Homo sapiens: one gene and its partners. The protein of the gene in region 3 interacts with the protein of the main gene of each other region in a pairwise test. Each region holds a gene or a part of one and is shown on either strand. Other genes may lie near its edges.

Evidence for each region.
Region 1: the proteins of CDC7 (region 3) and ZBTB26 interact in binary tests that used the Homo sapiens proteins (3 or more experiments, as listed by UniProt).
Region 2: the proteins of CDC7 (region 3) and IKZF4 interact in binary tests that used the Homo sapiens proteins (3 or more experiments, as listed by UniProt).

The regions. Positions count from the first base shown.
Region 1 is NC_000009.12:122,929,317-122,933,068, forward strand, and holds the start of ZBTB26 (zinc finger and BTB domain-containing protein 26), read right to left. Parts: upstream 2,197-3,752; 5' UTR 2,121-2,196; intron 1,950-2,120; exon of another isoform or gene 1,748-1,949; intron 1-1,747. UniProt on the Homo sapiens protein: May be involved in transcriptional regulation.
Region 2 is NC_000012.12:56,034,543-56,038,194, forward strand, and holds part of IKZF4 (zinc finger protein Eos), read left to right. Parts: intron 1-28; coding exon 29-789; 3' UTR 790-3,652. UniProt on the Homo sapiens protein: DNA-binding protein that binds to the 5'GGGAATRCC-3' Ikaros-binding sequence. Transcriptional repressor. Interacts with SPI1 and MITF to repress transcription of the CTSK and ACP5 promoters via recruitment of corepressors SIN3A and CTBP2.
Region 3 is NC_000001.11:91,514,236-91,517,887, reverse strand, and holds part of CDC7 (cell division cycle 7-related protein kinase), read right to left. Parts: intron 3,070-3,652; coding exon 2,891-3,069; intron 2,147-2,890; coding exon of another isoform or gene 2,137-2,146; exon of another isoform or gene 2,095-2,136; coding exon 2,012-2,094; intron 1-2,011. UniProt on the Homo sapiens protein: Kinase involved in initiation of DNA replication. Phosphorylates critical substrates that regulate the G1/S phase transition and initiation of DNA replication, such as MCM proteins and CLASPIN.

The DNA of each region.
Region 1 (3,752 bases), on a different chromosome or scaffold from region 3:
CCTTTACTTACCTTCTTCTCAACCTGGGTCTCTTTCCAAGCCTCTCCATTCTTATCAATGAGCCTCTCTTTGCTTAAATGTTTCCCACTCCTTTGGCTCCTATATTCAGTCACTGCATAGAGCAGTGGGTAAAACCATGGACTCTGGAGCCGTATTTCCTAGGATCAAAACCCTGCTCAACTACTTTCTGTGTAAACTCAAACCACTCTGCTTCAATATTCCCATCTATCAATAGTAATTTATTTCATAGGGTTGTTATGGAAAATAAATGATTTAATTTTTTAAAGAGCTTAGAACAGTGTCTGGTATGTACCCTATAAGCATGTGTTAGGTATACAAATAAAGCCTGTCAATTTTCTTTGTGAAATGCTTTAAATGTGTCCTATCCTTATTCCCATTTAACACCAAACCAGCTGAGGTACCTAATATTTCATAGAGTATCACCTCATCACTGTACTAAATTGCTTTTTAAAAGGTCACTAATGACCTCTTCATAAAGAAATGCAATACTCTCCCCTCCCCCAAGTCTCCAGATGCTCTGCATGAATTGATCCAGTGGTCTCTCCTCGAAATTCCCTTCTCTTGATTTCTGGGTCTTCTTGCTTGCTGTAACCCTGCACTCCTACACTTTATTGCCTACTGCTGACTACTACTAGCTCCAATTCCTCTTTCTGCTTCATAAATGCAAGCATTACCCTCCCCCCCCAAATTTCCTTATTTTTCAAAATTCTCTTCCTGATGCCAGCTATTGCCATGGTTTCCACTTCTATGCTGATAACTCAAACTTTTACCTCTAGCTACAATGTTTAGGCTGAGCTAAAGATTTGCATTTCCAACTCCATGCTGGACAGCTCTATGTGTCTGTCTCATTAGACCTTTAATTCAACATGTCCAAAAAATGAATTCATAATCTACACTAAGCTTATGGCTTTATTTCTGATAATGGCATTACCATCCTTCAGCTCAGAGGTCTAAAACCTAAGAATTAGATTTGGTCCCTCACACTTCTTCAGCATTCAGTTAATTATGGAGTCTTGACATAATCATCTCCAGTATATTTGTCTCCTTACCAATGACACCATTATAACTTATTTCAGGAATTTTTTGCCTCTCACTAGGCTGATCCCATTACCCCTTCAAAAGAATCTCCGATAAGCGTTCCTAACTTTTAGCTAAATGTCTAAATGCAGTTAATAGAAAGTCCCTTCTCTATGGGCTTTCTACAGAACAAAATGATTTCCTGCAGTGCAAATCTGACCATATCAATATTCTGTTCCGAACTCTTCAAAAAACTACCCATCTCCTTTAGGATTACACCATTCACCATCTGGACCTCGGTCGACTTTCCCAGTCTCATATCCATTCTGTGCATAGGAGTCCCCCCATTTCCTCCTCTTCCCACACAAGTTATGCTCAGTCATTTCTCCACAGTATTGCAACTGTCTTCCCTGAAAAACTCTTCAACACTTTACTCTCTCCAAGTACAATTCAGACATCACTTTCTTTCTAAAGCCTTCTCAGCAACGGCCCCTTGAGCAATTAACACATATGTGACTGATACATACATACATATATATACACATAGGAGTACTTATTTGTTCAGATCTGGCTCCCAAACTTAATCCCGAAAACTGGAACAATATCTTGCCAATCTCCAGTGTCTGGTATAGCGCCAGTAATATAAAAGGTGCTGCGACCAGTGGCCAAATAGGGGAAAACCCCAGCAAAAGGGTAACCTAGCACTCACAGTGGTTCTCAAAGACTGGCACTGAATGCCTGGTCTTGGGCTGGCTCCCGAGGCTCGTTTTCTTAGGGCCTCACCTCTGGCACTTCTTATAAGATGCCAGAGTCAGGCCCCCAAGCCAACTGCTGGGCCCTCAGCTGGGGTCCTATGAGGCGGTCCCAGGGGCATCCTCAGGCTCCCCACTCCAGTCACAGGGAAGGGAAAGGGGCGGGGCGCAGCGTGGGCCGGGCCAAGGGCTCCTCAAGTCCCCAGGGGCCTAGGCCAGCCTCTCGGCTCCCATCCCAGTGCAGGTCCCGGTTGATCCAGGGCCCCAGGGGGGTTCCATTTTGAGACACCCCGCACCCCAGCCCGCCGCTCCGGCCGTCTCCGCACTTACAGACCCGGGGGAAGGCCGCCGTCAGGATCCGGCACCGCCAGGAGCTCCGGCCCCTCGGGGCTCCGGGAAGGGGGAGGGGCAAGGAACCCGAGCCAAAGGGGGACCCAACGGAACCGGAAGGGCAGCCCTGGCCGGACAAAGACAACTTCCAGGTCCCATGGTCCTCTCCGCCAATCGGAAGGCTCGGAGGACAACAGGGGCCCCGAGAGGGAATTTCTGCGTTGTGGGCGGGGCGCAGACGGAGGGCACCGTACTCTGGGCACTAGCTTCACTGCCTACTACCCCGAGGTGCCTTAGCTCGTAAGCGTCTGTGGCTCAGGCCCTGTGCGCCTCGCAGGGACCCGCTGCTCGGGACCCCCGTCTCAGCGGCTCTTCTGTAGCTGGGCCTAGACGGTCCGCTGCCTCCTTGGGCCTGAAGGGCTCCTCTGCACTTAAACTTTGGTAAGTCTTTTTAGCCTAGGGGTGTAGACTCGTCGCGCGGGAGCCCGAAGAGCAGAAAGCTCTCCCCTCACTTTTGGATGTGTTTTTCAGGGTTCTTGCCTTGGAGTTCTTCCTAGGGCAAACTCTTGCACTCCCATGGCTTCCGTTACCTACTTCATGCTGACCATTCACAACCCAGGCAGCTACATGGACGAGATCTCCAGCTGTCCTGATGTGAAAGTACCTTTTAATGATCTCAAGTTCATCTCATCTCCTATCCAGACCGGAAAACTTGAGGATCCTTCTAGAGTTCTTTTCCTTGCCAATCCAGTTTACTGGTTTTTGACCATTCTTTTCGTTTTTGGTGGTGGTGAGGGGCTTTTTATTGAGGTAAAACATGCGTAATGTTTATTACTTTAATCATTTGTAAGTGTAAAACTTGATGGTCTTGAACTCTGGAGTTAAAGTGATCCACCCTCCTCAGCCTCCCAAAGTGCTGGGATTACATGTGTGAGCCACTGCTCCCAGCCTTTCCCTCTTTTTAATGTAGTTATTTACAACTATACATTTCACTTTGATCACTGTTTTCACTACAGCTCATAAGTTTTTGTATGTTGTGTTATTTTCATTCATTTCTAAGTATTTTCTAATTTCCCTTTTGATTTCTTCTTCTTTTTTTTTCTTTTTTTTGAGATGGAGTTTCGCTCTTGTTGCCCAGGCTGGAGTGCAATGGTGTGATCTCGGCTCACCGCAACCTCCGCCTCCTGGGTTCAAGCGGTTCTCCTGCCTCCGTCTCTAAAGTAGCTGGGATTACAGGCATGCGCCACCACACCGGGCTAATTTGATATTTAGAGATATGGAGACGTGGTTTCTCCGTGTTGGTCAGGCTGGTGTCGAACTCCCGACCTCAGGTGATCCACCCGCCTTGGCCTCCCAAAGTGCTGGGATTACAGGTGTGAGCCACCGTGCCTGACCTTGATTTCTTCTTTGACCCAGTTGTTAAGAGTGTTGTTTAACTTTCAGATATTTGTGACTTTTCCAGTTTTCCTTCTGTTATTAATTTATAACTTCATCTGTGTGGTCCGAGAAGATACTTTGTATGATATCTATCTTGTAAAATATTATGAAACTTGAATTGTGGCATACAGTCTGGTGAATACCTCATGTGCTTTAGAGAAGAATGTGTATTCTGCTCTTGCTGGGTGGAATGTT
Region 2 (3,652 bases), on a different chromosome or scaffold from region 3:
AGCCCTGCTGAGTTCCTGTTCTCCACAGGCGAAAAGCAGATGCGCTTCAGCCTCTCAGACCTCCCCTATGATGTGAACTCGGGTGGCTATGAAAAGGATGTGGAGTTGGTGGCACACCACAGCCTAGAGCCTGGCTTTGGAAGTTCCCTGGCCTTTGTGGGTGCAGAGCATCTGCGTCCCCTCCGCCTTCCACCCACCAATTGCATCTCAGAACTCACGCCTGTCATCAGCTCTGTCTACACCCAGATGCAGCCCCTCCCTGGTCGACTGGAGCTTCCAGGATCCCGAGAAGCAGGTGAGGGACCTGAGGACCTGGCTGATGGAGGTCCCCTCCTCTACCGGCCCCGAGGCCCCCTGACTGACCCTGGGGCATCCCCCAGCAATGGCTGCCAGGACTCCACAGACACAGAAAGCAACCACGAAGATCGGGTTGCGGGGGTGGTATCCCTCCCTCAGGGTCCCCCACCCCAGCCACCTCCCACCATTGTGGTGGGCCGGCACAGTCCTGCCTACGCCAAAGAGGACCCCAAGCCACAGGAGGGGTTATTGCGGGGCACCCCAGGCCCCTCCAAGGAAGTGCTTCGGGTGGTGGGCGAGAGTGGTGAGCCTGTGAAGGCCTTCAAGTGTGAGCACTGCCGTATCCTCTTCCTGGACCACGTCATGTTCACTATCCACATGGGCTGCCATGGCTTCAGAGACCCTTTTGAGTGCAACATCTGTGGTTATCACAGCCAGGACCGGTACGAATTCTCTTCCCACATTGTCCGGGGGGAGCATAAGGTGGGCTAGCAACCTCTCCCTCTCTCCTCAGTCCACCACTCCACTGCCCTGACTACAGGCATTGATCCCTGTCCCCACCATTTCCCAAGGAGTTTTGCTTTGTAGCCCTCACTACTGGCCACCTGACCTCACACCTGACCCTGACCCCTCCTCACCTATTCTCTTCCTCTATCCTGACCGATGTAAGCATTGTGATGAAACAGATCTTTTGCTTATGTTTTTCCTTTTTATCTTCTCTCATCCCAGCATACTGAGTTATTTATTAATTAGTTGATTTATTTTTGCCTTTTTAAATTTTAACTTATATCAGTCACTTGCCACTCCCCCACCCTCCTGTCCACAACTCCTTTCCACTTTAGGCCAATTTTTCTCTCTTAGATCTTCCAGCAGCCCCAGGGGTAGGAAGCTCCTCTTAGTACTAAGAGACTTCAAGCTTCTTGCTTTAAGTCCTCACCCTTTACATTATCTAATTCTTCAGTTTTGATGCTGATACCTGCCCCCGGCCCTACCTTAGCTCTGTGGCATTATATCTCCTCTCTGGGACTCTTCAACCTGGTACTCCATACCTCTTGTGCCCTCTCACTTTAGGCAGCTTGCACTATTCTTGAATGAATGAAGAATTATTTCCTCATTTGGAAGTAGGAGGGACTGAAGAAATTCTCCCCAGGCACTGTGGGACTGAGAGTCCTATTCCCCTAGTAATAGGTCATATTCCCCTAGTAATATGAGTTCTCAAAGCCTACATTCAGGATCTCCCTCTAGGATGTGATAGATCTGGTCCCTCTCCTTGAACTACCCCTCCACACGCTCTAGTCCCTTCAACCTACCGGTCTATTAAGTGGTGGCTTTTCTCTCCTTGGAGTGCCCCAATTTTATATTCTCAGGGGCCAAGGCTAGGTCTGCAACCCTCTGTCTCTGACAGATTGGGAGCCACAGGTGCCTAATTGGGAACCAGGGCATGGGAAAGGAGTGGGTCAAAATTCTTCTCTTTCTCCTCCACCTCTCAAACTTCTTCACTATAGTGACCTTCCTAGGCTCTCAGGGGCTCCTTCAGTCCCCATCCTATGAGAAACTAGTGGGTTGCTGCCTGATGACAAGGGGTTGTTTCAGCCCCTCAGTCATGCTGCCTTCTGCTGCTCCCTCCCAGCAGGATTCACCCTCTCATTCCCGGGCTCCTGGGCCCTGTTCTTAGGATCAGTGGCAGGGAGAAACGGGTATCTCTTTTCTCTCTTCTAATTTTCAGTATAACCAAAAATTATCCCAGCATGAGCACGGGCACGTGCCCTTCACCCCATTCCACCCTTGTTCCAGCAAGACTGGGATGGGTACAACTGAACTGGGGTCTTCCTTTACTACCCCCTTCTACACTCAGCTCCCAGACACAGGGTAGGAGGGGGGACTGCTGGCTACTGCAGAGACCCTTGGCTATTTGAGTAACCTAGGATTAGTGAGAAGGGGCAGAAGGAGATACAACTCCACTGCAAGTGGAGGTTTCTTTCTACAAGAGTTTTCTGCCCAAGGCCACAGCCATCCCACTCTCTGCTTCCTTGAGATTCAAACCAAAGGCTGTTTTTCTATGTTTAAAGAAAAAAAAAAGTAAAAACCAAACACAACACCTCACAAGTTGTAACTCTTGGTCCTTCTCTCTCTCCTTTTCTCTTCCCTTCCTTCCCCTTCCATCTTTCTTTCCACATGTCCTTTCCTTATTGGCTCTTTTACCTCCTACTTTTCTCACTCCCTATCAGGGATATTTTGGGGGGGGATGGTAAAGGGTGGGCTAAGGAACAGACCCTGGGATTAGGGCCTTAAGGGCTCTGAGAGGAGTCTACCTTGCCTTCTTATGGGAAGGGAGACCCTAAAAAACTTTCTCCTCTTTGTCCTCCTTTTTCTCCCCCACTCTGAGGTTTCCCCAAGAGAACCAGATTGGCAGGGAGAAGCATTGTGGGGCAATTGTTCCTCCTTGACAATGTAGCAATAAATAGATGCTGCCAAGGGCAGAAAATGGGGAGGTTAGCTCAGAGCAGAGTAGTCTCTAGAGAAAGGAAGAATCCTCAACGGCACCCTGGGGTGCTAGCTCCTTTTTAGAATGTCAGCAGAGCTGAGATTAATATCTGGGCTTTTCCTGAACTATTCTGGTTATTGAGCCCTTCCTGTTAGACCTACCGCCTCCCACCTCTTCTGTGTCTGCTGTGTATTTGGTGACACTTCATAAGGACTAGTCCCTTCTGGGGTATCAGAGCCTTAGGGTGCCCCCATCCCCTTCCCCAGTCAACTGTGGCACCTGTAACCTCCCGGAACATGAAGGACTATGCTCTGAGGCTATACTCTGTGCCCATGAGAGCAGAGACTGGAAGGGCAAGACCAGGTGCTAAGGAGGGGAGAGGGGGCATCCTGTCTCTCTCCAGACCATCACTGCACTTTAACCAGGGTCTTAGGTACAAAATCCTACTTTTCAGAGCCTTCCAGCTCTGGAACCTCAAACATCCTCATGCTCTCTCCCAGCTCCTTTTGCATAAAAAAAAAAGTAAAGAAAAAGAAAAAAAAATACACACACACTGAAACCCACATGGAGAAAAGAGGTGTTTCCTTTTATATTGCTATTCAAAATCAATACCACCAACAAAATATTTCTAAGTAGACACTTTTCCAGACCTTTGTTTTTTTGTGTCAGTGTCCAAGCTGCAGATAGGATTTTGTAATACTTCTGGCAGCTTCTTTCCTTGTGTACATAATATATATATATACATATATATATATATTTTTAATCAGAAGTTATGAAGAACAAAAAGAAAAAATAAACACAGAAGCAAGTGCAATACCACCTCTCTTCTCCCTCTCTCCTAGGGTTTCCTTTGTAGCCTATGTTTGGTGT
Region 3 (3,652 bases):
CTGACCTAGTGATCTGCCTGCCTTGGCCTCCCAAAGTGCTGGTATTATAGGCATGAGCCACTGTGCCCGGCCCTACTTGCCTTTCTTAGCTCCTTTGGTACCTCTGCCTGCTCCTTCAATGTTTTCTCCAAGCCTTAAGTGCTGACGGATATTCCTCAGAGTTTTAACTTCTCCCTCTGTATACTCTCCCTGATTGGTCCATCCACTTCATGGCTTCAACTGTCATTTATATAATGATGACATTCATCTGTATTTCTAGCCCAGCTCCTTCGCTGAGCATCAGACTTAACTTTGATTCTGCTGGAAATCTCTATTTGGATGTCCCACAAATACCTCAAACCAATTATACCCCAAACTAACCTTACCTTCCCCTATAAACCAGTTACTTCTCCTTTACTCTCCACCTTGGTTACTGGTACACATCCAAGTCTCCCAAGCTAGGAATCTGGTAAACATCCTGAATGCCTTTTTCCCTCACCATACCACACCCTAATTCTACATCCAATTATCCACCAAGCTCTGCCTTTCTAACCCTTCACTTTTCTTTTCATTCCTATTACCAATACCCTCATTCACATTTTCATCCTCTCACCCGGACAAATTCATGCCACCACTCTCCAAAAGCTAATCTGTTTGCACGCCTGCCAGAATGATCCATCTAGGATATACCATTGTCACTTTTTTCACTTAACTTTCCAATATCTACAGTATATAGTCCAAACTGTAACAACTGTGGTCTGACCTTGTCTACCTCATTCCAGGTTTATCTCTCACCATTCCTCAACTTGCATCTTAATATTCTAGCAAAATTGGACTTTTTTTTTTGAGATGAAGTCTTGCTGTCGCCCAGGTTGGAGGGCAATGGTGCGATCTTGGCTCACTGCAACTTCCGCCTCCTGCGTTCAAGTGATTCTCTTGCCTCAGCCTCCTGAGTAGCTGGGATTACAGGTGCGCACCACCACACCCAGCTGATTTTTGTATTTTTAGTAGAGATGGGGTTTCACCATGTTGGTCAGGCTGGTTTCAAACTCCTGATCTCAGGTGATCCGCCCATCTCAGCCTCCGAAAGTGCTGGGATTACAGGCATGAGCCACCGCGTCTGGCCAAAATGAAACTTTTTTAGTTTCCTGTATGCTGTTTCTTGAGTTCCTTGGCTCATGCCTCTATGCTAACTTCTCAGCCCAATTTACATTCTAAGAGGTCATTTCTTTCATGAATTGCCTTTCATAATCTCTTTGGGTTAGGATAGTTAGATACTCCTTAAATACCCTGAATAAGTTTTATTACCATACTCAACAGGTTATTTTATAATTATTTGATGGTGTCCTGACTAGAGTGTGAACAGATGGTCTCATTTATTTATTTGTTATCATTAGCAAGCAAGAACAGACATTCAATGAATGAATACATTTCTTCAAAGCCCATAATCCAAGTGAATAGCAGGATTCATCTATTCATTCAAGATGTTTCCTGGATTCCAGCTCCATGGTAAGTTTTTAGATTACGGAAGACATTTTTCTTTTTCAAAACCTTCTAACTGCTATTATATTGTTTATATAATAACAAAAGTAATTTTAATCAAACACAAATATATCTACATCACAGGAAACTTTTGAGGTATTAAGCAAGCAAATAAAATGCTTTAAGTCTTTGGCTGGCAAAAACTATTAAACATAATTTTTTCCCCCACAAAGGTGATGTCAGCAAAATTCCACAGATTACATTTTGCGTATTTATTTACAAGATGGTAAGATCATCTTGTAAATAAATACGCAAAATGTAATCTATGGAATAAACTGTTTAAACAAAAAAAGAGAGGCAACATTAGGATTAAAAACTTTCATAAAGAATAGCATTAGCTCAAAAATAGGAATGCCACACTGCAAGAACTGCTTACATAATTAAAAGCAGAAGAACTCAAATATTAGTTATAAATAGACAAAGATCATAAAATAAAATACGTCTGGAACAATCCATTTTAACTAGGTTCTGTATTTCCAGTACAACATACCTGTAGTTTGATTGGGGCACTTTGTCAAGACCTCTGGTGCTCTGAATCCTGGTGTACCTGCCCTAGGGGCAACCTGCTGACGCCTTATGATGAAATAAGATTTCTCTAGTTATGTTAAAGTTGAACTATGTAAGTCTAAAAAATAACATTCATCAATTTAGTTCACAGTAAATTTTGCCTTGATACCTATATAATAAGTGTTACTATAAAGTAAATGATAATCTAGTGTGATAAAAATCCTAGATTTTTCTTCTTCTGTTTTTTACCCCCTCTACTAGTTCCCCGGACTTACTCCAGAAAGGTTTAAAATAACCTCCAAGAATAAAAAGCAGTAGTGGATAATAAGAGCCATAATAGAAAAAATAGAACCCAATAGCAATTCACAGGTATAAAAATTCATTTGTTTGGAGTAATTGATCACAGATACACTTATATATTTGAGTTAATCAAGAAAGGCTTTATGAAAGCCAAGCCTTGAAGGAAAGGAAGAAATTTATGAGTCAAAGAGTTGGAGGTGGGAGTAAAAGAGGAGCTCTACTATTTGGTTCTGGTTACTCCACATAAGCGGGAATAAAAAGAGAAAACAGAAAAGACTACATCAGCAATCAAAATGTGTGATTCTAAGCTTCTAAAAGCCACCCCGTCCCACTTATTTGCATATAAGAGCAAATGTGTTTTCCAGAGTATATCCATATTAAATAAATAATATATGAAAACTGTTATCATTTGCTCTTCAACATACTACTGCTCTGCATCAAGGCCCATTGCAGTTCACTGATCTGAACTGATCCCTTGCACTCACAAAATTATCCACCCAAGTCAATGCAATTTCTAATGGCAGCATGCTGGTGATTTTATAACACCATCAAAACACATTACCTTGAAAGGCAAATACTACAAACTTTATCTGTTGCATAGCAGTCACAGGTCAGGCTAGCTGGGCAAGAACTGGCAGTTTTCCTCATCACAGCACTATTCATAACTTTTGTAGAAATAGCCTTCTTTTTTGTTGCTAACTTTCTAGACAGTACATCCACAGTCTTTGACTGCTTCATGAGCTGTAAAAGAAAAGTCTCATTTTTCTATTTTCATGATATTAAACATGATGTCCTAAAATGCTAGTATGGCAAAAAGCAATAGCGGAAGCATAACTTTAAAAACTGCTGAATGGCTATTGGACTGTAAATAAACTGTTGTCTATTAAAATGTTTAAGGTCTTCTTGGGTTTTTCTGTAAAGTCACCTTATATTAAAATTTACTAATTAGTCCTAGCTTGGCCAATATTTGAGTTATACTTTATTAGAACTTTTCCTGATATATTACAGAAGTATAAAACAGTTATGTTCTAGTGTCTAACTCCATTTCAGAACTGTAAACTGCACAAGTACGTTGGCTAAAATCACAGTTTTAATTTGTTGCTCATGCTGTCTAGCTGTCACAAGATATCATAAGTCAATCTGAAATCATCTACATTGATGATGATTTTGTTAACTTTACAAACATCTTTACACTATCAACTATGTGTCAGAATAGTTAGCTAACTGTATGGAGCTCACACTCTAGCAATGACAGAAAGCCCTTAATGTTCTAAATGTTCCTCTAGAGAAAGACAGTAATAGCTAACCAAAAATGAGAAAAAAT